Homo sapiens: one gene and its partners. The protein of the gene in region 3 purifies or fractionates together with the protein of the main gene of each other region. This does not show direct contact. Each region holds a gene or a part of one and is shown on either strand. Other genes may lie near its edges. The genes, in order: POMT2, ALG12, ASIC4, ODR4, PACC1, MANEAL and GLB1L2.

Evidence for each region.
Region 1: the proteins of ASIC4 (region 3) and POMT2 purify together in Homo sapiens (affinity purification with mass spectrometry; 2 studies listed by BioGRID and IntAct, with this or other methods). This does not show direct contact.
Region 2: the proteins of ASIC4 (region 3) and ALG12 purify together in Homo sapiens (affinity purification with mass spectrometry; 2 studies listed by BioGRID and IntAct, with this or other methods). This does not show direct contact.
Region 4: the proteins of ASIC4 (region 3) and ODR4 purify together in Homo sapiens (co-immunoprecipitation; 2 studies listed by BioGRID and IntAct, with this or other methods). This does not show direct contact.
Region 5: the proteins of ASIC4 (region 3) and PACC1 purify together in Homo sapiens (affinity purification with mass spectrometry; 2 studies listed by BioGRID and IntAct, with this or other methods). This does not show direct contact.
Region 6: the proteins of ASIC4 (region 3) and MANEAL purify together in Homo sapiens (affinity purification with mass spectrometry; 2 studies listed by BioGRID and IntAct, with this or other methods). This does not show direct contact.
Region 7: the proteins of ASIC4 (region 3) and GLB1L2 purify together in Homo sapiens (affinity purification with mass spectrometry; 2 studies listed by BioGRID and IntAct, with this or other methods). This does not show direct contact.

Annotation. Positions count from the first base shown.
Region 1 is NC_000014.9:77,310,480-77,314,652, reverse strand, and holds part of POMT2 (protein O-mannosyl-transferase 2), read left to right. Parts: intron 1-2,619; coding exon 2,620-2,704; intron 2,705-4,173. UniProt on the Homo sapiens protein: Transfers mannosyl residues to the hydroxyl group of serine or threonine residues. Coexpression of both POMT1 and POMT2 is necessary for enzyme activity, expression of either POMT1 or POMT2 alone is insufficient.
Region 2 is NC_000022.11:49,904,390-49,908,562, reverse strand, and holds part of ALG12 (dol-P-Man:Man(7)GlcNAc(2)-PP-Dol alpha-1,6-mannosyltransferase), read left to right. Parts: intron 1-618; coding exon 619-842; intron 843-4,056; coding exon 4,057-4,173. UniProt on the Homo sapiens protein: Mannosyltransferase that operates in the biosynthetic pathway of dolichol-linked oligosaccharides, the glycan precursors employed in protein asparagine (N)-glycosylation.
Region 3 is NC_000002.12:219,534,630-219,538,802, forward strand, and holds the end of ASIC4 (acid-sensing ion channel 4), read left to right. Parts: exon of another isoform or gene 1-541; coding exon 542-695; intron 696-2,436; coding exon 2,437-2,528; intron 2,529-2,612; coding exon 2,613-2,692; intron 2,693-3,002; coding exon 3,003-3,107; intron 3,108-3,303; coding exon 3,304-3,417; 3' UTR 3,418-4,143; downstream 4,144-4,173. UniProt on the Homo sapiens protein: Does not exhibit measurable stand-alone pH-gated sodium channel activity but may form pH-gated heterotrimeric sodium channels. Its activity could also depend on alternative gating mechanisms.
Region 4 is NC_000001.11:186,388,992-186,393,164, forward strand, and holds part of ODR4 (protein odr-4 homolog), read left to right. Parts: intron 1-596; coding exon 597-633; intron 634-1,719; coding exon 1,720-1,860; intron 1,861-2,704; coding exon 2,705-2,800; intron 2,801-4,173. UniProt on the Homo sapiens protein: May play a role in the trafficking of a subset of G-protein coupled receptors.
Region 5 is NC_000001.11:212,404,697-212,408,869, reverse strand, and holds part of PACC1 (proton-activated chloride channel), read left to right. Parts: intron 1-4,173. UniProt on the Homo sapiens protein: Chloride channel gated by pH that facilitates the entry of chloride ions into cells upon exposure to extracellular acidic pH. Involved in acidosis-induced cell death by mediating chloride influx and subsequent cell swelling.
Region 6 is NC_000001.11:37,796,665-37,799,730, forward strand, and holds part of MANEAL (glycoprotein endo-alpha-1,2-mannosidase-like protein), read left to right. Parts: intron 1-79; coding exon 80-156; intron 157-2,902; coding exon 2,903-3,066.
Region 7 is NC_000011.10:134,366,272-134,370,444, forward strand, and holds part of GLB1L2 (beta-galactosidase-1-like protein 2 isoform b precursor), read left to right. Parts: intron 1-985; coding exon 986-1,070; intron 1,071-2,372; coding exon 2,373-2,510; intron 2,511-3,533; coding exon 3,534-3,614; intron 3,615-4,021; coding exon 4,022-4,128; intron 4,129-4,173.

The DNA of each region.
Region 1 (4,173 bases), on a different chromosome or scaffold from region 3:
GTTTCAATCCTACCTCTTTCCATCAGCCTCTCTAATAGTGGGACAGTGGGGGACTCTCACTACCCCATTGCCTGCCCATGGAGGCCCTCATTCTTTCTCTTACCAAAGACTATGTCTCTCCTCATCCTATGCTTGTCTCCACACTGTCAGGGGCTGTGATTTTATCTTAGCCTACTTATTAGCTAATAAGTTAGCCTGTCACTGTTTTTTGCATGCTGACAGAAGACAAAGTCTTGGGTCAGAGACAGAGGACTTTATTTCTCATGGCACAGCAAGTGGGATGTGCATCAGCATGTTGGCATCAGTTTCCTTTGCCCCTAAGTCCCACGTGGTGCTGAGGGACTGGATGAATGCTTGCACATGCAGTAGCTTGCATCACAGCTGAGTAATATTAAGCTTAGGGAATCTGCTGTTTTATGGCAAGCAATAAACAAGACAGCCCTCTGTCTCAGAGGGAGACACTAACTTCCCTCAAGGTTGTTTACTGCAAACAGCATTCTTGGCATACCTTGCAAGGCCTGGAGGAGCACAAGAGAGCCACGGAGGACTGTCTCTCCTAACACAAGCAATAAAAGCCAGGAGGAAATATGAATGTTACAACTGGTTTTACTTGGGAAACTTTTGAAGTAAAAATCTGGAGCCCAGGCTGGGTGCGGTGGTTCACACCTATAACCCCAGCACTTTGGGGGGCTGAGGCAGGTGGATCACCTGAGGTTTGGAGTTTCGAGACCAGCCTGGCCAACATGGTGAAACCCCATCTCTACTAAAAATACAAAAATTAGCCAGGTGTGGTGGCGGCCGCCTGTAGTCCTAGCTACTTGGAAGGCTGAGGCAGGAGAATCGCTTGAACCCGGGAGGTGAAAAGTGCAGTGAGCCAAGATTGTGTCCATGTACTCCAGCCTGGGCAACAAGAGTGAAACTCTGTCTCAAAAAACAAGCAAAAACAAAACAAAACAAAACAAAACAAAAAAACTGGAATCCTTTTGTTAGTATGTTCCCAAACAGATTTAAAAACTAACCACAAATGTCAGGACAGTTTAAGGAGGGCCCAGCAGGGATGGTACTTTATAATCTACAGAATTCTTTCACATGTGTTATCTGAGTTGAGCCCTAAGGCCTCCCTGGGAGGTGGGCAGGGCAGATAATATTATTGTCTTCATTTTGTAGATGAGATAAGAGGACTAGAGAGAATAAGTGATTTTGGCGGGTTGTGCCATTAATTAGTGGTGGAGCTGGGACTGGATCTCTCTTTCTGCAAATCAGTTTCATTACCCTGCTTTGAAGTTATTTCTGTCTTCGACCTCACCATGCCAATGTCCTCACTGCCTGTCAAGGTGTTTAGCAGATGCTGAAATAGACCTATTCTTTTGCCTATCTTGGACCCACCAAGTAAGATATAAAAAGAACCTTAGATTCTTAGGTAAAGCATGTTTTCCCCTTATGTAGTAGGTCAATAATGACTGCTCATGACCTGGGGATTGATGACTACTAGAAAGTAACCCTTCTTTTGAGCTACAGGGAGAAAATTACAAATAGAAAAGGCCAGGCTCTGCTGGATGACTTGGCTGCGTTCCCAAAGCCCTCATGTATGGTGTAGAAAGGTGTATGTGGTTGTATAAAAGAGGACTTTGCATTGTGTTTGAAAGCCTGTTTATTCAAATCACTTATTTACTTGCAAAATAACTTAAGCAATGAGGATAGGTTTTAGATGTGGTCTTAATTTAGTAAGAAAGCCTTCAACTTTTATATACTAGTTAGTATAAGATCAGCCAGATCACAGTTAGCAGCTTACTTGTCACAGGGTGGCTGAGCAAAATGAGACTCCTGTGACACTCATGGTTTATAGACTCAACTCTGACCAGCAGCCCAACAGCGTCGTAATGGACCTTCTAATAGCAAATGTTGTCTCAGAAGTTAGCAGACTTGGAAGAAACTTTTTTTAATTTAAATTTTTGTTTACACTAGCTACTTGAAGATAGGAAGAAAACTTTTTTTTTTTTTGAGACGGAGTCTCACTCTGTCGCCTAGGCTGGAGTGCAGTGGCGCGATCTCGGCTCACTGCAAGCTCTGCCTCCCGGGTTCACGCCTCAGCCTCCCTAGTAGCTGGGATTACAGGCACGTGCCACCATGCCTGGCTAATTTTTTGTATTTTTAGTAGAGACAGGGTTTTACCATGTTAGCCAGGATGGTCTCCATCTCCTGACTTCGTGATCCGCCTGCCTCGGCCTCCCAAAGTGCTGGGATTACAGGTGTGAGCCACCGTACCCGGCCAGAAGAAAACTCTTACTACAAACCTTTCCATATTATGAGAAAACATCTTGTCCTTTTAAAATAAATAGAAACTCAAGATACAGAGTAAGTATATGTATATTTAACTCAATTGGTAACTGGCTAGTGAATATTTGCTCGCCTTTCTCATCTATCTAAATGAAGACCAGTGGCCAGCTTGATGTCTTTCTTCCTAAAATCACTTGTGTCAAAATATTTTTTTTTTAAATCCAGACTTTTGCATTAATTGTTTGAAATGCATAGCCTTTAATTTTAACCATGCTTTATGAAGGCCATTTGGATTTTATGATAATTTTAAAATTCTTGTTTCTCTTTCTGTGTTTCCTTTAGTTGGGATGAGACTCACTTTGGAAAAATGGGAAGTTACTATATCAACCGTACATTTTTCTTTGATGTGCACCCGCCCCTGGGAAAGGTGAGCAGTGTGGTGAATAGCAGCTCTCTGGTCCCAGAGGATTGTTCCTAAGGGCTGGAGCCACATCTTGATTTTGGATTTGGGGCTTCTAGAAAGAATTTGGGACTTGTAGAAAGAATTTTCTGACATTTCAGACCAGCTACTTTCATGGAAAATCTCTGGTGTTTTTTAAGGGTCCTCTGGGCTCAGAAATGGAAAGAGGGCCCATCAGCTGAGGGAGGGATGAACAAAGTGTGGCACAGCCATATGGTGGAATAATATTTGGTCATAAAAAGGGATGAGGTTCTGATACATGCTACAACATGGATGAACCTGGAAAACATGCTAAATGGAAGAAGCCAGACACAAAAGGTTACATACCCTGTGATTCCACTTATATGAAATATCTAGAACTGACAAATCCGCAGAGACACAAAGTAGATTAGTGGTTGCCAGGATCTCAGGGCAGGGAGGATTAGGCAGTGACTGCAAATGGGTGTGGGGATTCTTTATGGGGTGATGACATGTTACAGAATTAGGTAGTGGTGATGATTGCACAATCTTGTGAATATACTTAAAACCACCCATTGCACACTTTAAAATGGTGGATGTTATGTTATGTGAATTTGTCTGAATTTTAAAAAAGAAAAAAGAAATAGGAATACATTGCATGAAGCAGAAATAGCTTACGAGGCTGATATCCATATGGGGCTGACTTCTTTCTCCCTTCCCATGCCCAGCATACACATGGTTTGATCTGTTTCTCTCACATGTTTTACCATTAGAAATTCAACCAATTAGAATTCACTTTACTCTTTTTTTGTTTGTTTGTTTTTGAGACAGAGTTTCACTCTTGCCACCCAGGCTGGACTGCAATGGTACAATCTTGGCTCACTGCAACTTCTGCTTCCCAAGTTTAAGTGATTCTCTTGCTTCAGCCTCCCAAGTAGCTGGGATTACAGGCGCCCGCCACCACGCTGGCTAATTTTTGTATTTTCAGTAGAGACGGGGTTTCACCATGTTGGCCAGGCTGGTCTTGAACTCCCAACCTCAGGTGGTCCACCCGCCTTGGCCTCCCAAAGTGTTGGGATTACAGGCAAGCCACCGCACCTGGCCCATTTTAGTCTTTTAAAAACAAAAACCTCTGAGAAGGCTCTCGGATTAGCCCTGGAATTCACTCAAGGCTTTCTTCCTAACTGGAGACTTAGATCTTGGGCACCAAGGGGACAGGAATTTTCCTGTGATTAAGTGGGGAGGGATCTTGGAGCAGGTAGTACTTGGGGGATAAAGGCAGGAGCAGGGAAGGCAGGAGGAGGCAGGGAGTGTAATCTTTTATCAAAGATCACAAAGATCACCTATGGTTGGGCTTAAGGAAGCATGAGAGCAGGGGGCCCTACAGCGTGGAGGGATGGGAAGCGAGGTAGAACAGGTAGCCTATTTCAAAATTGGCTCTGAGCCCAAGAAAAGTGTAGAACATATTATGCCTCTTC
Region 2 (4,173 bases), on a different chromosome or scaffold from region 3:
GTTTTTTGTTTTTTGGTTTTTTTTTTTTTTTTTTTTGAGACAGAGTCTCACTCTGTCGCCAGGTTGGAGTACAGTGGCATGATCTCGGCTCACTGCAACCTCCAACTCCCTGGTTCAAGTGATTCTCCTGCCTCAGCCTCCTGAGTAGCTGGGATTACAGGCACATGCCACCATGCCCAGCTAATTTTTGTATTTGTAGTAGAGACAGGGTTTCACCATGTTGGCCAGGATGGTCTCGATCTCTTTACCTCGTGATCTACCCACCTTGGCCTCCCGAAGTGCTGGGATTACAGACATGAGCCACTGCGCCCGGCCGACCATCTGTTTTTAACAGTGAAGAAAAGGGTACAGAGACCGAACGTCCTGTGGCCCTTGCTGCCTTGGTCCTGCCTGGAGGGGGCCCGACGCCCAAGTGGTATGTGTGCACCCGAGCTGTGGCCTGGGCTCTGTCTTTTAGGAGGGGCCTGAGGCCTGAGTGGTGTCTGTGCACACGAGCCGTGGTCCAGGCTGCATCTCTCAGCACAACTGTCTTCAAGCGTCTTCTCCACCTTGACCCTGCCACCTAGCCCACGGGCTCATGCGTGGACAGGTGCGTGGCCTCCTTAACCCAGCCCGCAGACCTCCCCGCTGCTGTGGTACTTCTACTCAGCCCTGCCCCGCGGCCTGGGCTGCAGCCTGCTCTTCATCCCCCTGGGCTTGGTAGACAGAAGGACGCACGCGCCGACGGTGCTGGCACTGGGCTTCATGGCACTCTACTCCCTCCTGCCACACAAGGAGCTACGCTTCATCATCTATGCCTTCCCCATGCTCAACATCACGGCTGCCAGAGGCTGCTCCTACCTGTGAGTGCTCTTTTTGTGACATGCATTTTTATAGTTTCATTGGAAACAGGTTCACTGATTTACTGTTGGGGGGATGTATGTGTGTGTTTAATTTTTGAAACAGGGTCTTGCTCTGTCGCCCAGCTGGAGTGGGGCTTACTGCACCCCTCAACTCCTAGGGGGTTAAGCCATCCTCCTGCCTCCTCCTCTGGAAGTGCTGGGATTGCAGGTGTGAGCCACCAGGGCTGTTTTTTAAGATAAACACAGGGTGTGTTGAACTAGGCGCTTATGTCAAAGGAGGGTGACCCCAGTCCTCTCTCCTCCCTGAGGGCTGCATGGGATGGGACCGGCCTGGCATTGTGCTGACAGAGGGCTTTGCTCAGGTGGTCTCTGTCTTGGGTTAATTTGGTGACTGGTCCACATATGGTGATGCACCAGCGGTCCCAGTCTCTGTCATGGGAGAGTGACACTCACATAGGTAGCAGCGGCAGAGGGCAGGGGCAGCCAGGCCTGGGAGGCTCTGAGGGCGACAGGTCAGGTAGAGGAAGGGCGTTCGTGGCCATCCTGACAGGGCCTCGGGCTTGAGGGCGTTTGTCAAGGCGGGTCATCTGGCTGGAAGAGGGGGATGGTGAGGGAGGTGCCTATGGCTGGGTGCAGAGGGCCCAGCGTGGCCCAGGCTCAAGGTCCTGTGGAGGGCAGGGGGCTTCCTGCGGGGAGGGACTGCAGGCAGCAGGTGATGGAGGTGGAGCTGGGGGCCTGGCAGGGCCTGGGGAGGGCACTGCCTGGGCTGAGGGTGGGGTGGTCTGAGCGCGGCTGCCACTCAGTGTTGCAAGCCTCAGGGAGCCAGGAGAGTCCATCACTGCCGGGCCCTGTGGGTGCTGGGGAAGGACCCGGGGCTCAGGCCCAGGAGAGTCCATCACTGCTGGCCCTGTGGGTGCTGCGGAAGAACCCAGGGCTGAGGCTGGCCAGCTCTGTGCCCGTTCAGAGTTTGCTGCCTTGATGGGAACAGGAGGCCAACTCAGGCCACGCTGGGCATTGAGGGGCGGCAGGGCTACAGGCCAGGAGGGCCGCGGCCTGGGGCATTGAGAGGTGCCCACTCTGGCTGGAGAGGAAGCCCCACAATGCGGTCCCTGATCTCAGGCAGCGGTCAGGTGCTTTCCGGTGCCACTTGTTACAGGGGAGGGGATGGTGCCCCCCAGCTCCGACTGCCCCGCACTGCCCTCGGGCCTGGGAGCTCCTCTGGCTGCCGTGACTGTTCCTCGCTGGGGGTTCCTCCGGCTGCCGTGGCCGTGCCTGGGTTGGGGGCTCCTCTGGCTGCTGTAGCCGCGCCTCAGTGGGGGCTCCTGGGAGCTCTGCCTCTGCTTTTCTGTGCCTTTGGCTCCCTCTCGTCTCAGGGGTCGGCTCAGGGCTGGAGGAGGAGCAGACCCCAGCCAGAGTCATGGAAAAGAGGGTAGGAAAGACGGGGAGAGCGGCGCGGATGGATTGTATTCGGTGACAGGCTTTTCCAGCAGGGAAGAAGATCCAGTGGGAACTGGACCCAGCTCTGTGTCTTTGAGGCCTGGTGTGCTGGGCGTGAGGGGCTGCTCCATGCAAGGGCCCCTGCTGTGCCAGTCGGCCTTATCCGGAGGAGGACAAACTTGGGGAGTCCAAATGAGGGGGTGCAGGGTAGAGCAAGGCCCCCTCCGAAGTCAGGTCCTCAGCCCGGCCACCCTGGGAGCAAGAGCAGGCCGTTTCCCACGGTGTCAGGGCCCAGGGCCTTGAGACAGTCCTGGGGGTGGAAGGTTTCTGATTGCGAGCTTTCCACAGTGACTGCCCACTCCAGGTTTGGGCGGGAACAAAGGACGAACGCCCTGGCAGTGCTGAGCTCTTTGGGGCAGGCACTTAGGAGGCTGCGGTCATCCTAGGTGGGGCCTCGAGCTCAGAAACCGCACCAGAGATTGTTCAAGGGTGCACTAGTCTGCTCTCGCACTGATGTAAAGAAACACCTGAGACTGGATAATTTATAAAGAGGAGGCTTCATTGGCTCGCGGTTCCGCAGGCTGTACGGGAAGCGTGGTACTGGTGTCTGCTCAGCTTCCAGGCTGGCCTGGGAAAACTTTCCATTATGGCGGAAGGCGAGAGGGAAGCGGGCACGCTTTTATGTGGCCAAAGCAGGACGAAGAGGGACGGGGGAGGTGTCACCCATTTTCAAACAAGCAGACCTCTCGAGAACTCACTCGGTATGAGGAGAACAGCATGGAGGGGATGGCGCTAATCCATTCCTGAGGGCTCCACCTCCATGACCCAGTCACCTCCCACCAGGCCCCACCTCCAGCATTGGGGATCACAGTTGGACATGAGATTTGGTGGGGACGCAGATCCAAACCATAGCAAAGGGCAGGGCCTGTGGAGAAGAGGGCTCCGAGGAGCCTGGTGGGTTTGGAAGAGAGTGAGTCTTGATCGGGGGTTCAGGGCGTTTAGACCAGGGTTGGCAAGCTTTTCCGTTAAGGACCAGCTAATAAAGAGCCTCATCTTCGTGGGCCACACTGTCTGTGGCAGCTGCTAACTCTGCCGTAGGATCCTGAGATTGGCATAGTCGATTGTGAGAGAACCGGCGGCACCCTGTCCCAGAGAGTTCACTCAGACCTGCTGGGAGTGGGCTTGGCCGCGCGGGTGGCACTCTGACCTACACAGTCACTTGGGATTGTTTGAAAATATATTTTTAGGCTGGGCGCAGTGGCTCATGCCTGTAATCTCAGCACTTTGGGAGGCTGAGGCGGGCAGATCACGAGGTCAGGAGTTCAAGACTAGCCTGGCCAACATAGTGAAAGCCTGTCTCTACTAAAAATACAGAAATTAGATGGGCATGGTGGCGTGCACCTGTAGTCCCAGCTACTTGGGAGGCTGAGGCAGGAGAATCACTTGAACCCAGGAGGCGGAGGTTGCAGTGAGCCGAGATCATGGCACTGCACTCCAGCCTGGGTGACACAGCGAGACTCTGTCTCAAAAATATATATATATTTTAAAATCTCATCTAAATTTTAAATTGGCATCTTGGGTAGAATTTCACAGACAATTCTTGAGGCAGTATCTTAACCACTTTTACGGGTTACTGACTCTGTTTTATTTGGTGGTGAACTCTTTGTTATGACTTGGTGAAGTTGAACAGCAGGTTATGCTCCTAGTATGTTTTGTAGGTAGATTAATTTTATTGTCATTACGTTCTGCCTATGATGTGTAACCATTCTTTTTTCAGGCTGAATAACTATAAAAAGTCTTGGCTGTACAAAGCGGGGTCTCTGCTTGTGATCGGACACCTCGTGGTGAATGCCGCCTACTCAGCCACGGCCCTGTATGTGTCCCATTTCAACTA
Region 3 (4,173 bases):
ATAGGGTGCAGAGCAAGGTTGAAGAGTGGAGAGTGGATCTGAAGGGGCAGGCAGAGAAAGCCCAGCACATTGATCCTGGGAAGCTTGTCGGTCTATTTGTTCTTCTGTTCGCCCATCCGTCGATCTGGCCATCTGCCATCCATCCATCCATCCATCCATCCATCCATCCATCCATCCATCCATGCATGCATCCCAGCATCCTCTCCACACCTCCTTGTGTGTCTGAGGCCTCACATAGTTGATTAGCTCTGGTGGATGGGCTGTGTTCTCCCTCTGGGCCACGAGGACCCCCCCCCAGTCCCAGGGGGTTGGGAGGGTGCTGGGGGGTTCTGCTTATATCTGCTCTCTGGAGCAGTCTGAAGCTGGTTCAGGCGGGGACCTGCAGCCAGTCCCCTCTAGGAAGCACTGGGGCTGGCCAGTAAAGGCCCTCAGTGTGGGTGTGCCTGCCTCAGGACGGCCCCTGGGCCTCCTCTCTGCAGCTGGTGGGCCACTGGACCACCCTTCTCCAACTCCCACTGTAGCTGCTACCTCTGTGTTGCAGACTCCCTGGGTGGGGGCCCTGAGGGCCCGTGCTTCTGCCCCACCCCCTGCAACCTGACACGCTATGGGAAAGAGATCTCCATGGTCAGGATCCCCAACAGGGGCTCAGCCCGGTACCTGGCGAGGAAGTACAACCGCAACGAGACCTACATACGGTATGTGTGTGTGTGTGTGGGGGGTGGCTGTGTGACTCTGTGTGTACGTGTGTGTGGGGGGTGGCTGTGTGACTCTGTGTGTACGTGTGTGTGAGTGTATGTGTGTATGTGTTTGTGTGTATGTGGGTGTGGGTGTGTATGTGTGTGGGGTGTATGTGGGTGTGTACATGCATGTGTGTGTGTGTCTGTGTGGGGGGCATGTATGTGTGTCTTGTGGGTGTGTGAGTGTGTGATGTGTGTGTGCATGCACACTTATGAGTGTATGTATCTGTGAATGGGTATGTGTGTGAGAGAATGTGTCTATGTCTGTGTGGGTCTGTGTGCGTGTGTGTGTGTGGTGGAGGCTGCCCTCAACAGGCGCTGGGCATGGTGGAGGCAGGGAGTGGGCCGCATCTCTATGATGAGTCTTCTACCGGGAATGCCCTTCATAGCTCTATTCTTCTCCTTCTTTTTTTTTTTTTTTTTTGAGACAGAGTCTTGCTCTGTCGCCCAGGCTGGAGTGCAGTGGCACAATCTTGGCTCACTGCAACCTCGACCTCCCAGGTTCAAGCGATTCTTCTCCCTCAGCCTCCCAAATAGCTGGGATTATAGGCACCCACAGCCATACCCAGCTAATTTTTGTCTTTTTAGTAGAGATGGGGTTTCACCATGTTGGCCAGGCTGGTCTTAAACTCCTGACCTCAAGTGATCTGCCGTCCTTGGTCTCCCAAAGTGCTGGGATTACAGGTGTGAGCCACCTTGCCTGGCCACAGCCCTTCTCTTCTAAGTAGCCCCACTCATTGCTCAAGTCACGTTCAGTGTCTCCACCTCCAGGGAAGTGCTTCCAGGTCCAAACACCTTTCATCTGAGTTCCCAGCACCCGTACAGATCTCTGTCATTACACATATGCCACATTTCAGAGTGCTTTGCTTATGCATCTTTCTTCCCTGCACGGAGGGAGAGGGACAGGATGAGACAGGAGAGGAACACAGTACCCTGCAGGGGGAGGCAGGAGGGACCGCCCTGAGGCTTGGGTCTGGTCCCCTCCAGCCAGTCTACACTTGTGGAGCGTGGTCTGGGTGCCAGGCTCAGTGCTGGGTTCTGTGGGGACAGATGATTATGACACAAAACTCATGCCACAATTTGTCAATGAGCCCACGTTTGATCATGTAGGACTGATTCTCAGGCCCCAGTCGGGGAGTGAAGCTGGGGAGGCGTGAGCCGGCCTCTGAGGGCCCTGGGTTTGGGGTCTGAGAGAGGAGGCAATGGGGAGGCGTCCAGTGACAGGACGTGGGGCGGTGGGGTGGTGTGGCGGGGAGCCTGAGCCATAGGCAGCTGTGTGGAGGAAGCAGAAAAGACGGCGGCTGGGGAGGAAGGTGCCGGGGACAGGCCACCGGCTGCCCAGGACACCGAGAAGGGGCATTGTGGAGTGGACTGACGGGCAACAGGGGTCACTGAAGGGTCCGCAGAGGCGTAAGGAGGAGGCAAAGGCAACACCACTGGCTGCTTTAGAGGAGGGAGGAGTGTTTCCTTCAGGTCCAGGAGTTGTGTTTTGCTCTCCCAGGCCCTTTGCTACCCCTCAAAAGATGAAGCTAACACACATCCGGGACTGCCTCCCCTCACAGCCTTGGGGAGTCCGGGGGGTAGTCACTGACTTCCCCATGTAGTGATCTCTGATCAGGATCTGCTGGATCCAGGATGCCCCTGCCAGCCTTCTCAGGAAGAGAGGCCCACACGGATACCCTGCTTCCTGTCTCCACAGGGAGAACTTCCTGGTCCTAGATGTCTTCTTTGAGGCCCTGACCTCTGAAGCCATGGAGCAGCGAGCAGCCTATGGCCTGTCAGCCCTGCTGGGTGAGACTGGTGTCCCTGCCCCCAGCTTGTGTGGGGGTGGATCGGCCCGGCCGCTCCCTCTGACACTGCTCTCCTGCTTCCCAGGAGACCTCGGGGGACAGATGGGCCTGTTCATTGGGGCCAGCATCCTCACGTTGCTGGAGATCCTCGACTACATCTATGAGGCAAGGGCCCTGGAGAAGGCAGGGTGGGAGTGGGGGCCGTGGGCAAAGCAGAAGGGGGCAGTGCGGGGTGCCTGGTGGAGCTGGCCTGGCTGGAAAGTCAGGTTCAGGGTTCTCTGCCAGGGTCCCCTGACTGGCTGGCAGGCCTGAGGGCTCAGAGTCAGGAGAAGGGGATGGGTGAGGAGGAGGAGGGTGTCCTACTGGGAGTTTGCTGTGGCAGTAAGTCCTGTGGGCAGCTGGGCATGGTAAGGCTCACGCTTCTCCTCAACCAAATTTCCTGAGCCCACTGCTGTCCCCGACCCTGAACCCCAAGGTGTCCTGGGATCGACTGAAGCGGGTATGGAGGCGTCCCAAGACCCCCCTGCGGACCTCCACTGGGGGCATCTCCACTTTGGGGCTTCAGGAGCTGAAGGAACAGGTGAGGACAAGCTCTAAATGCCTGCAGCATGCAGCCACACCTCCCCAGGACTGAATACATCCATTGTTTCTGAACCAGCCTGTGGAGGGGGCCCTGGAGCCTCTGCCCGAGGTGACAAGGAAAGGCTGGCGGTGTGAGCCCTGGGGGCACCACTTGAGCTCTCCCGGTCCCACTCTCTCTTTTCTTTCTCCTGCAGAGTCCCTGCCCGAGCCGGGGCCGAGTGGAGGGTGGGGGGGTCAGCAGTCTGCTCCCCAATCACCACCACCCCCACGGTCCCCCAGGAGGTCTCTTTGAAGATTTTGCTTGCTAGGACGGTGCTGTGACTGAAAGGACCCAGGAGTCTGGGACCCCTCCTGGGATCCCCAGCACATTCTCCTGCTCCTGGGAGAGGCCTGGGGGCGGTGCTCACTGGGAGGGCCAGGACTCAGTTCCTGCTCTCATCCTCCCCTGCCCTGATGTCAGCTGCTTTGCACAAAGGTCCTTCTTGTCCACACCCCTTATCCCCAGGCTGGTGCCCCGGGAGGGCTGGAGACCAGGCCATGGGCCCTCACGGAGAGGAAGGGAAGGAAGGAGAGGGAGGGGGAGGATAGAGCCCATCCCAGCCGGGGAGGGGGAGCCCTCTGTACATTTGTAAATATTTAGGGAAAGCCGGGTGGGGGGAGGGGATACAGATGTAGAAGGTGGGTAGGGCTACAGGGGTGGGTGATTTAGGGACAGCCAGGGTCCCAGCCCCAATGTCAGCAGGATAGGGAGAGCCCCAGGACTCAGGAGTGCTGGGCTGGTCCTACTTCCTGCCCCTCTCCAGGCCCAGCTCCCCTCTTGGCAGGGGGAGAGGATGGCCCAGCAGGCCTGGCCCAGCTCCCAGTTCCCCCTGCACCAGCCCCACCCCTAGAGTCCCTTCTATAGGGAGGGGGCAGGAGACCTTCCAGACTTCGGCTGAGCTTGGAGGGTGGGAAGGGAGCCTTCTCAGTCCTCTCTCCCTCCAGTCTGATTTTATAAAGTGCTGACGAGATTGGGAATAAAGAGGCATAAAGAATTCTCTGTGTGTATGTGTGACCAAGCACGC
Region 4 (4,173 bases), on a different chromosome or scaffold from region 3:
GCTAAGATGAAATGACACTAAAAGCCAGTTACACGGCCTCTTACCAGGGCAAGAGTACCTCCCAAGCAAGGGTCATCCTCACCAAAGGAGTGACACGATCCATGGACTTCCAAAGACAGAATTTTAAAAGTGACCATTCCTGCAGAAGCAGGGCTTTTTTTTTTTTTAACAACAACAAAAAAAATCTTTAGTATTTAACTGCAAAGTTTCATATACAAGCCCTTTAATCCAATAAATAGTCTCAGGTTTGACCTCATATAAAACAGTGGTACTTTTTCTTATGGAGAGTGTATATTTGAGAAGAATCTCACGAGTGCTTTGATTCTATTTATTGCAATTAGCGGGATTCATAAAAGGTAGGAAATGATTTTCAAGCACCGCAAGTACTATAGTGATAGCAGTTTGTATGTATGATTATATATACACATATGTATATATATGCACACATGTACATATATGTACGCATATCTTTAAAGTGTTATGATTTTGTAAGAACTTTTGGATGCGTGCATTTTTTAGTTTATTTTTTGATAGTTTATATTCTTTTAGTTACCAATAATGCCTTTTTTGGTTATTTCTGTCCTTAATTAGTGAAGAATATTTTGTCGAACTTATGATATCCATGATCCAAAGGTAAGAAATTTACTCTTTAAAGATTTTTCTGTGTCACAAAGTATTTTCAATCAAAATTCAGCTTTTATTTAGTTTTAATAATTTCCATTGCCATCACTTCCTATTGATGCCTACAAACAACTGTAGTTTTTATTTTGAAATATGATTAATTTTATTACAGATAAGGAAAACTTTTTTGTGCGTGACAGGGTCTCACTCTCTTGCCCAAGCTAGAGTGCAGTGATGCAGTCATAGCTCACTGCAGCCTCCACCTCTTGGGCTCGAGGGATCCTCCCACCTCAGCCTCTTGAGTAGCTGAGACTATAGATGTGCACCACTGCACCTGGCTAATTATTTTTGTTTTTTGTTTTTTGTTTTTTTTGATAGAGATAGGGTTTCACCATGTTAGTTATGTTTGTCTTGAACTTCTGGGCTCAAGTGATCTGCCTGTCTTCGCCTCCCAAAGTGCTGAGATTACGGGCTTGAGCCACCACGGCCAGCCAACTTTTTAAAAAATTGTTAAAATATCTTTGTTAATCTCCTCCTACCTTGTTTGTGTATTTAGTTTTATATTTGAGAGGCTGGTAGTAAAAGTGACTGAGGACTTTTGGTAGCTGCACTGCCTATTAAACAAGCTATGTGTATTCAGCAAAACCCAGATTAGCACTTTGCTAATGCATCTAAAAGGGTTGTGAAAAAGTAACTTTGCAGTGTCATTAGCAAGGATGGGACAGAAAGGAGAATGCCTGCCACCTAGGAGTTGCTCAGTGATTATTTGCTTCAGATCAGAATCTTCAGTATTGATACTGTTGAAGCTAGAGGATCAAAGGACCTTTCAGAATTCTAAACATGGAAATTTCTGATTCTTTTTCTGCCTACCATTGGGAGGAGAAGTATTGCCAAGGATGTATTGAAGAGTACTGAACTTAACACATGCTTTATTTTGTGTTTAGTTCAACCTATAGTCTTTTGATCAAGGGTTTAGCCATATATGTTAGATATGAGTTTGTATGCGTTATTTAGGTTGTATATTTAATAATGTTTTGTTGATCCATGTATTTTATCTAGACTACATCATAGTTATTTTTCTCCCTTCTCCACTGCTAGAGTTCAGCAAGACCAGCAGATTGGAAGTATCAAAGTGGATTATCATCCTCATGGCTTTCTTTAGAGTGTACAGTTCACATTAATATTCACATCCCACTTTCTGCTACTTCTGTCAGCTATACTCTGGAGAAAAATACAAAGGTACCAGGGTAAAATGAATTTTCTTCAGTGATTGCTGAGTGAACAATCTGCTTTTATTCTGCTTACATGTGTCATTCATTTTACAATCCTCAAAAATTACATTCTGCTTACAATGTTGTTATGTGAGTAACTTATTACCGCAGCCAAATTAGAAATTTTTAGAAATTTTTAGAAGTGGAACAATGTCATAATACTAGTATATTCAGTTTAATAATAACTAATAATTTAGTTGTTAGACTAAATATACTAGTACTTATTATGTGCTGATTAAGTATTATTATGTGCTTTGTCATTAAACTAAATATAACAGTATTCATTAATTAACATGTAAAATGTAATTAATGTAAGAAGCTATACTGTTTGGACTTTTAGCTTTCTCTTAGTACTTAGGTTTTTTTGTCTTCCTTTTTCCAGTTCTTTTTTGTATTTCTATACCATTCTTTTATTTTTATCTTATTTTTCTTCATTTTTCCCATTGAAGATGTCAAATAGAGCTTTTTTTTTTTATTTTTTAGACTTATTTGATGCTTTTTTCTCACTTTTTTTTTTAAGGTAGTGGGCATTAAATTTTATTTAACTGATCATGTACTTAATAACCTCCTGAGTCTGTGACATAAATGTTATTCTGGGATAAAGATCAGAAAATAACTATTATTAAATATAATAAGGTATCAAGAATGGGGGTATACTTTTTTTTAATTTGTGAAACTAGATTTAAATGCTGCAGTAATGAGATTTAGGGATTTTAATATTTCAATTTATTAGGTGGAACAAAGTAGATTATAGGAAGTTTAATTGAGATGGCATTGTATCTGAAAGATTTCCATGTTGTGTTTCTGTTAAGAATGGACTTACACGCTGGGCCAAGGAAATAGAAAATGGTGTTTATTTGATTAATGGACAAGTTAAAGATGAAGATTGTGACCTATTAGAAGGACAGGTAAGTTAAGAGAAAATCATCTTATTAAATTGTTAGTGCTTAAGGAAAAATAAAACATGACTTATTTTTAGTCCTTGCCTACAAGAAAACTGATTTCATCTACCTCTCATTTCTGATTTCTGATTTAAAGTAAAAGGCAAATGTTTTTCTTAGAAAAACAACCTCATTAAAAAGTAGGCAGAGGATATGAACAGACACTTTTCAAAAGAAGACATACATGCAGCCAAGAATCGTATGAAAAAAAACTCAGCATTACTATCGGTAGAGAAACACAAATGAAAACCACAATGAGATACCATCTCACACCAGTCAGAATCGCTGTTATTAAAAAGTCAAAAAATAACAGATGCTGGCAAGGCTGCAGAGAAAAAGGAATGCTTATAAACCGTTGGTGGGAGTATAAATAAGTTCAACCATTGTGGAAGGCAGTGTGTTGATTCCTCAAAGACCTAAAAACAGAGATACCATTTGACCCAGCAATCCTATTACTGGCTATACCCTCAAAGGAATATAAATTGTTTTATTGTAAAGACACATGCATGCATTATGTTCATTGCAGCACTATTCACAATAGCAAAGACATGGAATCAACCTAAATGCCCATCAATGACAGACTAGATAATGAAAATGTGGTACATATACACCATGGAATACTGTGCAGCCATTAAAACAGAACGAGATCATGTCCTTTGCAGGAACATGGATGGAGCTGGAGGCCTTTATCCTTAGAAAACGAATGCAGGGGCCAGGCATGGTGGCTCATGTCTGTAATCCCAGCACTTTGGGGGGCCGAGGTGGGTGGGTCACTTGAGGTCAGGAGTTTGAGACCAGCCTGGTCAACATGGTGAAACCCTGTGTCTACTAAAAATACAAAAGTTAGCTGGGCATTGGTGGCAGGTGCCTGTAATTGCAGCTACTTGGGAGGCAGGGGCCAGGCGTGGTGGCTCATGCCTGTAATCCCAGCACTTTGAGGGGCCAAGGTGGGCAGATCACTTGAGGTCAGGAGTTCAAGACCAGCCTGGTCAGCATGGTGAAACCCTGTCTCTACTAAAAATAACAAAAATTAGCCGGGTGTGGTGGCAGGTGCCTGTAAGCACAAGCTACTCGGGGTGCTGAGGCAGAAGAATGGCTTGAACCTGGGAGGTGGAGGTTGCATTGAGCCGAGATCGTGCCACTGCACTCCAGCCTTTGGCTACAGAGTAAGACTCCATTTCAAAATAAAAGAAAAGGAAAAGAAGAAAACTAACAGAGGAACAGAAAACCAAATACCGTATGTTCTGACTTATAAGTGGGAGCCAAATGATGAAAACACATGGACACATAGAGGGGAAAAACACACACTAAAAGGAGGGAGAAGGAGAGGATCAGGAAAA
Region 5 (4,173 bases), on a different chromosome or scaffold from region 3:
ACTAGAATGAAACTCCCTGAGGGCAGAGACCAGTCTGTTTTGCTCACCAGCCTAGCCTTGACCACGCCATAAAGATTTGTTGAGTGAATGAATGAAGCCCCAGCCTGACTTCAACTTCTTGGATGGATCCCATCTGTTTGTGGGAGAGGGGAACAAGACAGGAACTAATGTGGTTCTGCCTGCTCCTTACAGAAGACTGCATGGAAGGGACCGGGCACGGTGGCTCATGCCTGTAATGCCAGCACTTTGGGAGGCTGAGGCAGGTGGATCACCTGAGGTCAGGAGTTCAAGACCAGCCTGGCCAACATGGTGAAACCCTGTCTCTACTAAAAAATACAAAAATTAGCCAGGTGTGGTGGCACATGCCTGTAATCTCAGCTACTTGGGAGGCTGAGGCAGGAGAATCGCTTGAACCCAGGAGGCGGAGGTTACAGTGAGACGAGATCATGCCACTGCACTCTAGCCTGGGTGACAAGAGTGAGACTCTGCCTCAAAAAAAAAAATAAAATAAAGTAAAAAAAGACTGCCTGGAAGGAAGGAGGCTGGAAGGGCAGCTAACATTTCCTGACTGCTTCTCCTGTGCCAGGATCTGTCGTACCCCATTTGCCCCATTTAATTCTCACATCAACCCTGTGAAGTGGTTATCCCCCTTTTACAGATGAGGCCCCCAACCTCAGGGAGGTTGAGTAAAGCATGGGGAGGTCATATAGCTGGTAAACACAGACTGAGTCAAACTCTGCCCAACCCTAAACTCTCTCTACTACACCAGTGGTGTTTTCTTTTTTTTTTTTTTTTTGAGATGGAGTCTCACTCTGTCACCCAGGCTGGAGTGCAGTGGCACAGTCTCGGCTCATTGCAACCTCTGCCTCCCAGGTTCAAGTGATTCTCCTGCCTCAGCCTCCCAAGTAGCTGGGACTATAGGCGTGTGCCACCACACCCAGCTACTTTTTTATTTTTAGTAGAGATGGGGTTTCACCATGTTGGCCAGGCTGGTCTCAAACCCATGACCTCAGGTGATCCGCCCACTTCAGCCTCCCAAAGTGCTGGGATTACAGGCGTGGGCCACCGCACCTGGCCTACATCAGTGGTTTATAAAAACTATTTTAAGTGGTGGTAATCCCAACACTTTGGGAGGCCAAGATGGGAGGATCTCTTGAGGCCAGGAGTTTGAGACCAGCCTTAGCAATAAAATGAGATCCTGCCTCTACCAAACAGACAAAAACCAAAAACACTCACACAAAACAATAAGCATTCTTTTATTAAAGCCCAATATGTAAAAGATAGTAGCACGGCTAATCCTCCCTCTGACATGAGGCATTGCCTCTAAAGCCCTAAGGCTCCCGGGAGAACAACTTGAAAGACCTGTATATTAGTTTTCTATTGTTTCTATAACAAATTACCAAAAACTTAGTGGCCTAAAAAAACACAAATTTATTATCTTATAGTTCTGGAGGTCAGGAGTCCAAAATGGATCTCACTGGGCTAAAATTAAGCTGTCAGCAGGCCTGAATTCCTTTCTAGGGGCTTGAGGAGAGAACTTGGTCTTTGCCTTTTCTAGCTTCTGGAGGCCTCCTGCATTCCTTGGCTTGTGGCCCCTTCCTGCAGCTTCAAAACCAGCAGTGGCTCGTCGAGTCTTTCTCACATGACATCACTCTGATGCTGACTCTCCTGCCTCCCTTTTCTGTGTTTAAAGGGCCTTTGTGATCACATCGGGCCCACCCAGGTAACCCAGGATAATCTCCCTGCTTTAAAGTCAGCTGATTAGCAACCTTAGTCCCATTTGCTGCCCTAATTCCCCTTTTCCATGCAACTTGACATATTCACAGGTTCTAAGGATTAACACTTGGACATCTTTGGGAGCCTTTATTCTGCCTACCACACCTTGCACTACCCTCTTGCCCCCAACCAGAAGTGCATAGATGGAGGCAGGAGAAAGAAGAGGAGGGAGGCCAGACTTGGAAAGATGAGGCTTGTCTTTGTGTTTCCTTTCATAGAGAAGTGCCCAGGTAAATCAGGAGGTGGCCCTAATGTCCTTGGACCTTAGCAGCCTCTCTTTTGCCTCAGATTCCTGGGGCTGCAAAGCCTGGGGTCAATCAGAATAGGAAGCCAGGCCTCAGGCAGAGCAAATTTTGGGTAGTTCCATCAACTGGCAAGAGCATTCCCACTTGCTTTGGGGTAGCCTTCCCAGTTGCTTTGGGGGAACCAGATGAGCTGGGCTCATCTCCTTTCTAAATCACAGAAGATTCAGATCTCAGGAGTCCATTTGGCTGGGTCAGTAGTGAGTTGGCTCAAATTTGATGGACTGATACACAACTCTCAGAGCTCATTTCTTGCCTCTGACTCTTCTTTTTTTTTTGAGACAGTCTCCCTGTGTCAACTAGGCTGCAGTGCAGTGGCACGATCTTGGCTCACTGCAACCACCACCTCCTGAGTTCAAGCAGTCCTCATGCCTCAGCCTCTTGAGTAGCTGGATTATAGGCACTTGCAATCATTCCTGGCTAATTTTTGTATTTTTAGTAGAGACGAGGTTTTGCCATGTTGGCCAGGCTGGTCTTGAACTCCTAACCTCAAGTGATCCACCTGCCTCAGCTTCCCAAAGTGCTGGGATTACAGGCGTGAGCCACCATGCTTGGCCCCTTTGAGTCTTCTAATAATAATAATAAAAATAATGGTAATGGTGATAGTGGTTGCCATTTTGGGGGTGCTTTCATGTACTAGGCCTGTGTAGGGCTTTAGGGCTTTTTTTTTTTTTTTTTTTTTTTTTGTGGGGTGGGACCTTGCTTTGTGGACTGGGCTACAGTACAGTGGTGTGATCATGGCTCATTTCAGCCTCCCGAGTAGTTGAGACTACAGACATGCGCCACCATACCTGGCTAATTTTTAAATTATTTTTAGAGACAAGGTCATGCAGTGTTGCCCAGGCTGGTCTCAAACTCCTGGGCTCCAGTGATCCTCCTGCCTTGACCTCCCAAAGTGCTGGAATCACAGGTGCAAGCCATTGCTCTGAGCCTATAGGGCTTTTTATATACACTTTATCCTGTAATCTTCACAGCCACTCTGTGAGGTGAACGGTTAGTCCTAGTTTATAGATGAGGAACCCAAGGCACAGACGTTAAGGAATATGCTCAGAGCTCATGAGTGGCAGGGCTCAAATCCATACCCAGAGCTGTCTCGCAAGGTGTTCTGACTCTGGCTCAGTTGTTCCTAGATGAGAGCTTTCCTGCTCCAAATTCTCCCCTCCCTGTAGCAGATCAATTAAGGACTGCTTCACTTGTTATGCCAAGTGCTGACACCACAAAGAGGGTGAGTAAGTTCCTCCAGGAACTCAGGCATATAGAGACAGAAGGCCGGTTACCCAAGGAAGAACTTGTCCCTCCTTCTGAGCCTTCCTTGACTTCCCTGATGAGGTCCCTTTCTCCCTGTGATATGCTTTCCTTTGTAACAGTTAACACAGTTGATAGGTCACATTTATTGAGTTTAATTATTCAGTTAATTGTTATCCATCCCTTGGCACTGCCCTACAAGTTCTGTGAGGCACACAGATTTTGTCTTCTCCTCCTTTACTGTAACTCCAGTGCCTAGTGTGGAGTGTAGTATGGAAGTATGACTCCATAGAAGTATGAGTACTGTAGGTACTCAGTACCTATTTGTCCTCTGGGGGAGAGCAGTGGAGATTTAGAGCAAGAGAGCCTCTCATCTAGGAGCAACTGAGCTAACTGGAATGAATGAATGAGGGCCAAAGAAATGGTAGAGTCAGGTGCTTCAAAATTAATGAAGGGGCCTGGCGTGGTGGCTCACACCTGAAGGGGCTCACACTGTGGCTCATCCCAGCACTTTGGGAGGCCAAAGCGAGCAGATCATCTGAGGTCAGGAGTTCGAGACCAGCCTGGCCAGCGTGGTGAAACCCCATCTCTACTAAAAATACCAAAAAAACTAGCCGGGGCATGGTGGCAGATGCCTGTAATCCCAGCTACTCAGGAGGCTGAAGCAGGAGAATCACTTGAAGCCGGGAGGCGGAGGTTGCAATGAGCCGAGATTGTGCCACTGCACTCCAGACTGGGTGATAGAGCAAGATTCCATCTCAAAAAATAAAAATACAAATACAAAAATTAGCCAGGAATGATGCACGCCTGTAATCCCAGCTACTTGGAAAAAAAAAAAAAAAAGGAAGGA
Region 6 (3,066 bases), on a different chromosome or scaffold from region 3:
CATGGTTAGATCCTGAGCCTGATATGTTGTGGCCCCTAGATAGACACTCACCTGACCATTACTCCTCTGTTTGTGGCAGGTGGCCTTCCACATCCAACCCTACAAGGGCCGGGATGACATCACTGTACATGACAACATCAAGTACATCATTGACACGTAAGGCTGCTCTGGGGGCCGGGATTTTGGTGGGGATCAAAATGGAGGTAGGGATAGAAGGTTTGGAGGGGCAGGTCAAGAGACACAGGGCATAATGCCTGTGTTTCCCAGCAGCTGTTTTATAGTAAGAGAGTACTGGGCCTAAAGTCAGGCAGCCTGGGTTTCAATTCCTGTCCTGTGGCTTCTAATCTGTGATGAGGCAAGCCTCTTAACCTTTGAGTCTTGTGAGAATCACACGAATTAATATATGTGAAAGTAGCTTCTACAATGTAGGCACCTCATTTATTCATTCAGAAAGTATTGAATGAAGGCCAGGCATGGTGTAATCCCAGCACTTTGGGAGGTCGAGGCAGGCGGATCACTTGAGGTCAGGAGTTCGAGACCAGCCTGACTAACGTGGTGAAACCCCGTCTCTACTAAAAATAAAAAAATTAGCCAGGCGTGGTGGCGCACACCTGTAATCCCAGCTATTCAGGAGGCTGAGGCAGGAAAATCGCTTGAATCTGGGAGGCGGAGGTTGCAGTGAGCCGAGATTGCACCGCTGCACTCCAGCCTGGGTGACAGAGCGAGATTCCATCTCAAAAATAAATAAATAAATATTGAATGAGGCTGCGTGCAATGGCTCATGCCTGTAATGCCAGTGCTTTTTTTTTTTTTTTTCTTTTTTTGAGACAGAGTCTCACTCTGTTGCCCAGGCTGGTGTGCAGTGGCACAATCTTGGCTCACTGCAACCTCTGCCTCCTGGGTTCAAGCGATTCTCCTGCCTCAGCCTCCTGAGTAGCTGGGATTACAGGTGCCCACCACCACACCCAGCTAACTTTTGTATTTTTGTATCTTTAGCTGGGCGTGGTGATGCACAGCTATGGTCCCAGCTACTTGGGGGGCTAAGGTGAGTGGATCACTTGAGCTCAGAAGTTTGAGGTTACAGTGAACTATGATGGCACCACTGTACTCCAGCCTGGGATTTCACCATGTTGGCCAGGCTGGTCTTGAACTCCTGACTTCAGATGCTCTGCCCACTTCGACCTCCCAAAGTGTTGGGATTACAGGTGTGAACCACTGCACCCGGCCTCCCAGGGCTTTGGGAGGCAGAGGTGGGAGGATTGATTGCTTGAGGCCAGGAGTTTGAGATCAGCCTGGGCAACATAGCAAGACCCCATCTCTACTGAAAAAAAAAATTAGCTGGGCATAGCAGTGCATGCCTGTAGTAGTCCTAGCTACTTGGAAGGCAGAGGTGGGAGGATCACTTGAGCCCAGGAGTTTGAGGTTACAGTTAGCCACAATTACACCACTGCATTCCAGCTGAGAACAGAGCAAGATTCTGTCTCTTAAAAAAACAAACAAAAAAAAAGAGAGTATTGAGTGCCTACATGTGTCCAGGCACTGACTTAAGCCCAGTTGTACAGTAATGGGTAGGACTAGCGAAATTTCTGATTTCATAATGTTTACTTTCTAGTGTATGTTGCAGGTACTGTGGAGCAGACAGTAATTAAATGGGAAAAATCAAACAGTGATCTGTACAGGATTTTGTGCTAGAGTGTGCCCACGATGCTACTTAAGAATGGATAGTCAGGTCAGGTGAGTCTGAGGAGACAACAGGTGAGCTAACACCTGAATGAGCAGTCAGGGCTGGGTGTGGTGGCTCACACCTGTAATCCCAGCACTTTGGGAGGCTGAGGTGGGAGGATCACTTGAGGCCAGGAGTTTGAGACCAGCTTGGGCAACATGGGGAGACTCTATCTCTACAAATTTTTTTTTAAACATTAGCTGGGCATGGTGATGCATGCCTATTGTCCCAGCTATTTGGGGGGCTGAGGTGAGTGGATCACTTGAGCCCAGGAGTTTGAGGTTGCAGTGAGTTACGATGGCACCACTGTACTCCAGCCTGGGCGATACAGTGAGACTTAAGAATAAAAAAAAGAAAAAAGAAAAAAAAGCCCAGGCCCAGTGGCTCACACCTGTAATCCCAGCACTTTGAGAGGCTGAGGTGGGTGGATTGACTGAGGTCAGGAGTTCAAGACCAGCCTGGCCAACATGGTGAAACCCCATCTCTACTAAAAATACAAAAATTAGGCAGGTATGGTAGCGGGTGCCTGTAATTCCAGCTACTTGAGAGGCTGAGGCAGGTGAATCACTTGAACCCCAGGAGGTAGAGGTTGCAGTGAGCTGAGATCGCCCACCGCACTCCAGCTCTGAGCAACAGAGCAAGACCCTATCTCAGAAAAAAGTAGTAATAATAAGAAGAAAAAAGAAAAGAAAAAGGGTCAGCTCTGCAAAGATCCGGAGGCAGGGAGAAAATTCCAAGCAGAGGGCTGGCAGATGCAAGTCCCATAAGATGGAACAAGCTTGCATGACACATGAGAGCCGGATAGAAAGGCCAGATGGGGAGTAATAGCTGGGAAAAGAGCAGGAATGGAGTAGGCAGGGCCAGATCAAGTAGGTGGGAATAATGAATGGATTATATGGAGGCAGGATGGGAGCCTGGAGACCAGTTAGCTGGCTGTTGTTGCAATCCAGATGGAAGACGGTGGTGGCTTGGCTAAGGGTAGGGAAGTGAGGCTTAGGAATGACAACTGGAGAGAGGAAGGAGGGAACCAGGTTCTTGCTTAGAGGCATGATGACTCCAACTGTGGAGACTGACTGGCTCCAGAACTGGGCTGTGTTGCATCCGTATCTCATCCACGGGAGGTCCTACAGCTGTGCTGGTCTCTCCCATCCAGCTGAGGCTCTTCTTTCTCCTTCTCAGGTATGGCTCCCATGGTGCATTTTACCGCTATAAGAACAGCATGGGCAAGAGCCTCCCACTCTTTTATATCTACGACTCATACCTGACGTCCCCTGAGGCCTGGGCCCACCTCCTGACACCAAACGGGCCCCATTCGATCCGCAACACGCCCTACGATGGGGTCT
Region 7 (4,173 bases), on a different chromosome or scaffold from region 3:
GGTGGCTTGTAAAGAAAACCAAGCCGCCAGTCTTGCTAGAAGAATTCTTGTAACTACTTTGGCTTTAACCCGGGTATGGCTGGTACCTTCTACTCAATGGACCGTGAGTTTGTCCCATCCCCCTGGATCAGATTTTGTTGCTGTGTATGCGGTATCCCTCTAAACATAAGGCTATCACTGACCTAGAGATACTTGACAAGCTGTCACTGAATAAGTGAGGAAGGCTCTCTCATGCAGAGCCTGAAATACTAGCGTGTTAGTCTTTACACCTCCCCCAGGTGCTCTGGGCTTCTGCAAACGTGGCAGAGTGGAGCATGGTCCCAGGAATGATCTTGGCCTCCTTGGGGCCGTCCTATGCCAAAGTCAGTATTCAGAAAGAAGATTTAAGATTTGTTGAGTGGCCCAGCCAAGGTATAAATCCAAACTGTCAGTGCAGAACCTGCACCATGAATAGCTGTGCTGTAAGGCCCTGATTTTCTGGTTCAGAAAATGCTGCAAACTGCTGTTTAAACTGAGTTGGACCTTGAAGAGGGCCCACTCTGCAGCGTCTGATTTTTCTGCTAATGGAGCCAGTACCCAGGGTGGGGGGGAGGGATCTGCATCCACAGTATCCCTCTCAGATATGGAGTTGTCCTGGGTAAAACATCCCCCTTCCCTGGAAGAGGACAGGCAAAGCTTGGCTTGATCCTGGACCAGTGTCTTCTTGCTAACACGTATGCAACATTAAAACCATCAGGGTTTGCCATATCGACTTTGGGAGCTTTATCTGCTCTATACCTGCAGGAGGCCACATGTGGCAGGAGAACTGGTGTGCAGGCGAATTTGGCCCTCACCTATGCCCCACCTCCAAAGACCTCTAAGGCAGTGGGTATGCAGACAGGGAAGAGTAGAGAGGGCAGAGATCCTGGGGCTCCCCTCCATGAAGAGCTTCCCTCTTTTTTGTCTGGCCAGCCTGCTTGTCTAACTCTCATTTTGTGGTGTCCAGGGGACTCAGCCCAAGATGGTGATGGAGTACTGGACGGGGTGGTTTGACTCGTGGGGAGGCCCTCACAATATCTTGGATTCTTCTGGTGAGTGCTTGCGGTGACTACATCCAGAATGTGTGCTACTTAAGAAGTGAGGATGAGTTTCAGTCACCTGCTAACTAATGTAAGCCATAGGGGGTGCAAGGCTGCTGGGATTATCTGTGTGCAGAAGTTGGCTTTGGATATTCCTGAGTCATTTGTCTTGACACTTGGATGAATGGGAGGGCTTTTAACATTGCTTGTTCGTGTTTTTGTAATTAGAAGGGTAATGCATGCCTATTGCAAACATCCAGAAAATACAGAAAAAGTATAGAGAAGAAATAAAATTCCCAGAGCACAGAGAAAACACTTAGCTGTTTACCACGCAGGCAGTTCTCTCTGTATCTCTGCCGACAGCTCTATACGCACACACAGATAGAGACAGATGCCATCACACTCCGCTGCATGTCACCTGCTTGTGCCAGTTAATGCACATACGGACAGCTTTCTGTATGACCAAATACAGATTTACATGACTGTTTTAAAGAATGTGAAGAGCCCCATTCTAAACCACACTTTGTGGACACAGTCTCCCGGGTTGTTTCTGGTGGTTCTGTTAAGCGCACGCCATCCCGGCGAGCATCCCGGTGAGCATCCCGGAGCCTGCGCTCTGCGCACCCGGCTTTCCCTGGGATGAGCGGCACAGGGGCTCCTCGGCACCGTGTAGATGTGCATGCTCGCCCCTCAGCCCCCGGAAAGACGGCAGCTTCAGCCGCTGCTGCTGAATGGGTGCACCCATTTCCCACAGATTCAGCAACACCGAGTATTAAAATAACTTTTAATATTTGTCTACTCAGTACATCATTGTTTAGTCTGCATTTCTTTGATTTATATTGATAAAATATATATTTATTAACCATTTGTTTTTCTCCTTTGCTATGATCTTGTTATGTCATGGTTCATTTCCTAACAAAGGTAGAATAGGAGGTGTCAGAGTTTTCTCTCTAAGGATGCATCCCATCTTTGTGCACTTGATACACCTGGTCAGGCAGACTCACATGGAGACTGTGCTGGCTGGAAGGCCCTGGCCGACCTGGGCTGCAGGTGGTCCACATGGAGCTCAGAGACTTGACCAGGATTGACAGACAACTGGAGGCTCGAGCTCTGGGGCCATGATTCTGGCCCACACTTCCTCCTCCACCCCTAATCTTCTGTGATTGGGGTTTTATGAGAGCTAGAAGGACAGAGTGACAAAGTTGGCCTTGAGGTTTTGAGGTGGGACTGGGAAAGAGGAGAGTAGTGAAGGGACCCCGGCTCATCTCAGACTTTAACTCACTCTGCACATCCCCTTTCTCCCTCCTCCGGCAGAGGTTTTGAAAACCGTGTCTGCCATTGTGGACGCCGGCTCCTCCATCAACCTCTACATGTTCCACGGAGGCACCAACTTTGGCTTCATGAATGGAGCCATGCACTTCCATGACTACAAGTCAGATGTCACCAGCTATGGCAAGTATTCATCAGCACTGCTCTCCCTGGTCTGCCCTGCATGGGCATGGCTGGGACTTGCTATGGAGAGGCCCTCAGGGTCAACTTCTGGCACCTTCGTGTCTTTGGCAATAGAGTACCTGGAGAAGGTACTTGCCTGGACAGTCATGTTACACTCCCAGAGGAGGGAAGCCTCAAGGGAGGTGGTGTGCCTGTGAGCTGGTCACTCTACAGAGAGGCCTCTTTGGCAAAGGTTGGCCTGAGGAAGTGGAAGGAGACCGCCCTAGGGGGACAGGGAGGGACGGTGGCCTCCCCTCCCTGCCCAGGCCCTTGAGGAGGTGTGATCCTGCCTCCTTTAGGTTGAGAGTCCCAGAAAGTAGAAATTACACCTGCAGCTAGAAATTTAGGGCCATGCTGTGATCATGGACAGTTTGTGTTTTTTTGAATTTGTGAGAGAGTTATCACTCTGACACCCAGGCTGGAGTGTAGTAGTGTGATCATAGCTCACTGCAGCCTCAAATACCTGGGCTCAAGTGATCCTCCTGCTTCGGCCTCCTGAGTAGCTGGGACTACAGGTGTGCACCCCCACCTCTGGCTAATTTTTAAAATTTTTTGTAGAGGTGGGGGTCTCGCTATGTTGCCCAGGCTGGTCTGGAACTCCTGGCCTCGAGCGATCCTCCTGCCTTGGCCTCCCAAAGTGCTGGGATTACAGGTGCGAGCTGCTGCACAAGCGATCCTCTTGCCTTGGCCTCCCAAAGTGCTGGGATTACAGGTGTGAGCCACTGCACAAGCGATCCTCCTGCCTTGGCCTCCCAAAGTGCTGGGATTGCAGGTGTGAGCCGCTGCACCTGGCCTTATGGACGCTTGTTGTAGTTGCCTGGTCTTTCATGTTTACAGTATTTTGACTGAATGGCTCAAAAGTGTCTTGCCTCCCCAATGGCTGAGATGAAGACCTGTGGCCCTTCCAAGCTTCTCCCTGTTCTTCGTGCTACATGTGCTGTGCTGGGGACAGGAATGACCATGACAGGGCCCGGTGTCTTGCAGACTATGATGCTGTGCTGACAGAAGCCGGCGATTACACGGCCAAGTACATGAAGCTTCGAGACTTCTTCGGCTCCATCTCAGGTACCCAGCAGACAGCAGACTCAAGTTCCAACTCAGGCCCTCGCTTCTGCTCTCAGACCCCTAAAGAGTTACTTCCTTACTGTCCCACCTCGACCCCAGTTGATCTGCGTGCAAGAATATCCTAGACAAGGACAGGGAGGTGTGTGAGGCTGTTTCCATCTTGCCGGCTTCACCTGTTACAGGTGTTAACGCTCCTTATCTCCTGTGGAGGACGGGAGAACGCCCTGGCTTTCCCCCAGGCCTGGCCTTCCTCCCTGGCCTCAGCAGGTGCTGAGAGCTAGCCTGTTGTTCCTCTTGGTGCTGGGACGCAGGAGCACATCGGGTCTGTGGATGGGAGCCGGGTGGGGAGGACGAGCAGGCAGTGACATTTGGGTCCGTTGGGGGTGACCCTGTTTTCTGTGTTGCAGGCATCCCTCTCCCTCCCCCACCTGACCTTCTTCCCAAGATGCCGTATGAGCCCTTAACGCCAGTCTTGTACCTGTCTCTGTGGGACGCCCTCAAGTACCTGGGGGAGGTGAGTGCTGTGGGCAGTCATCGGGAGGTGAGTGAGTGCCGGGGG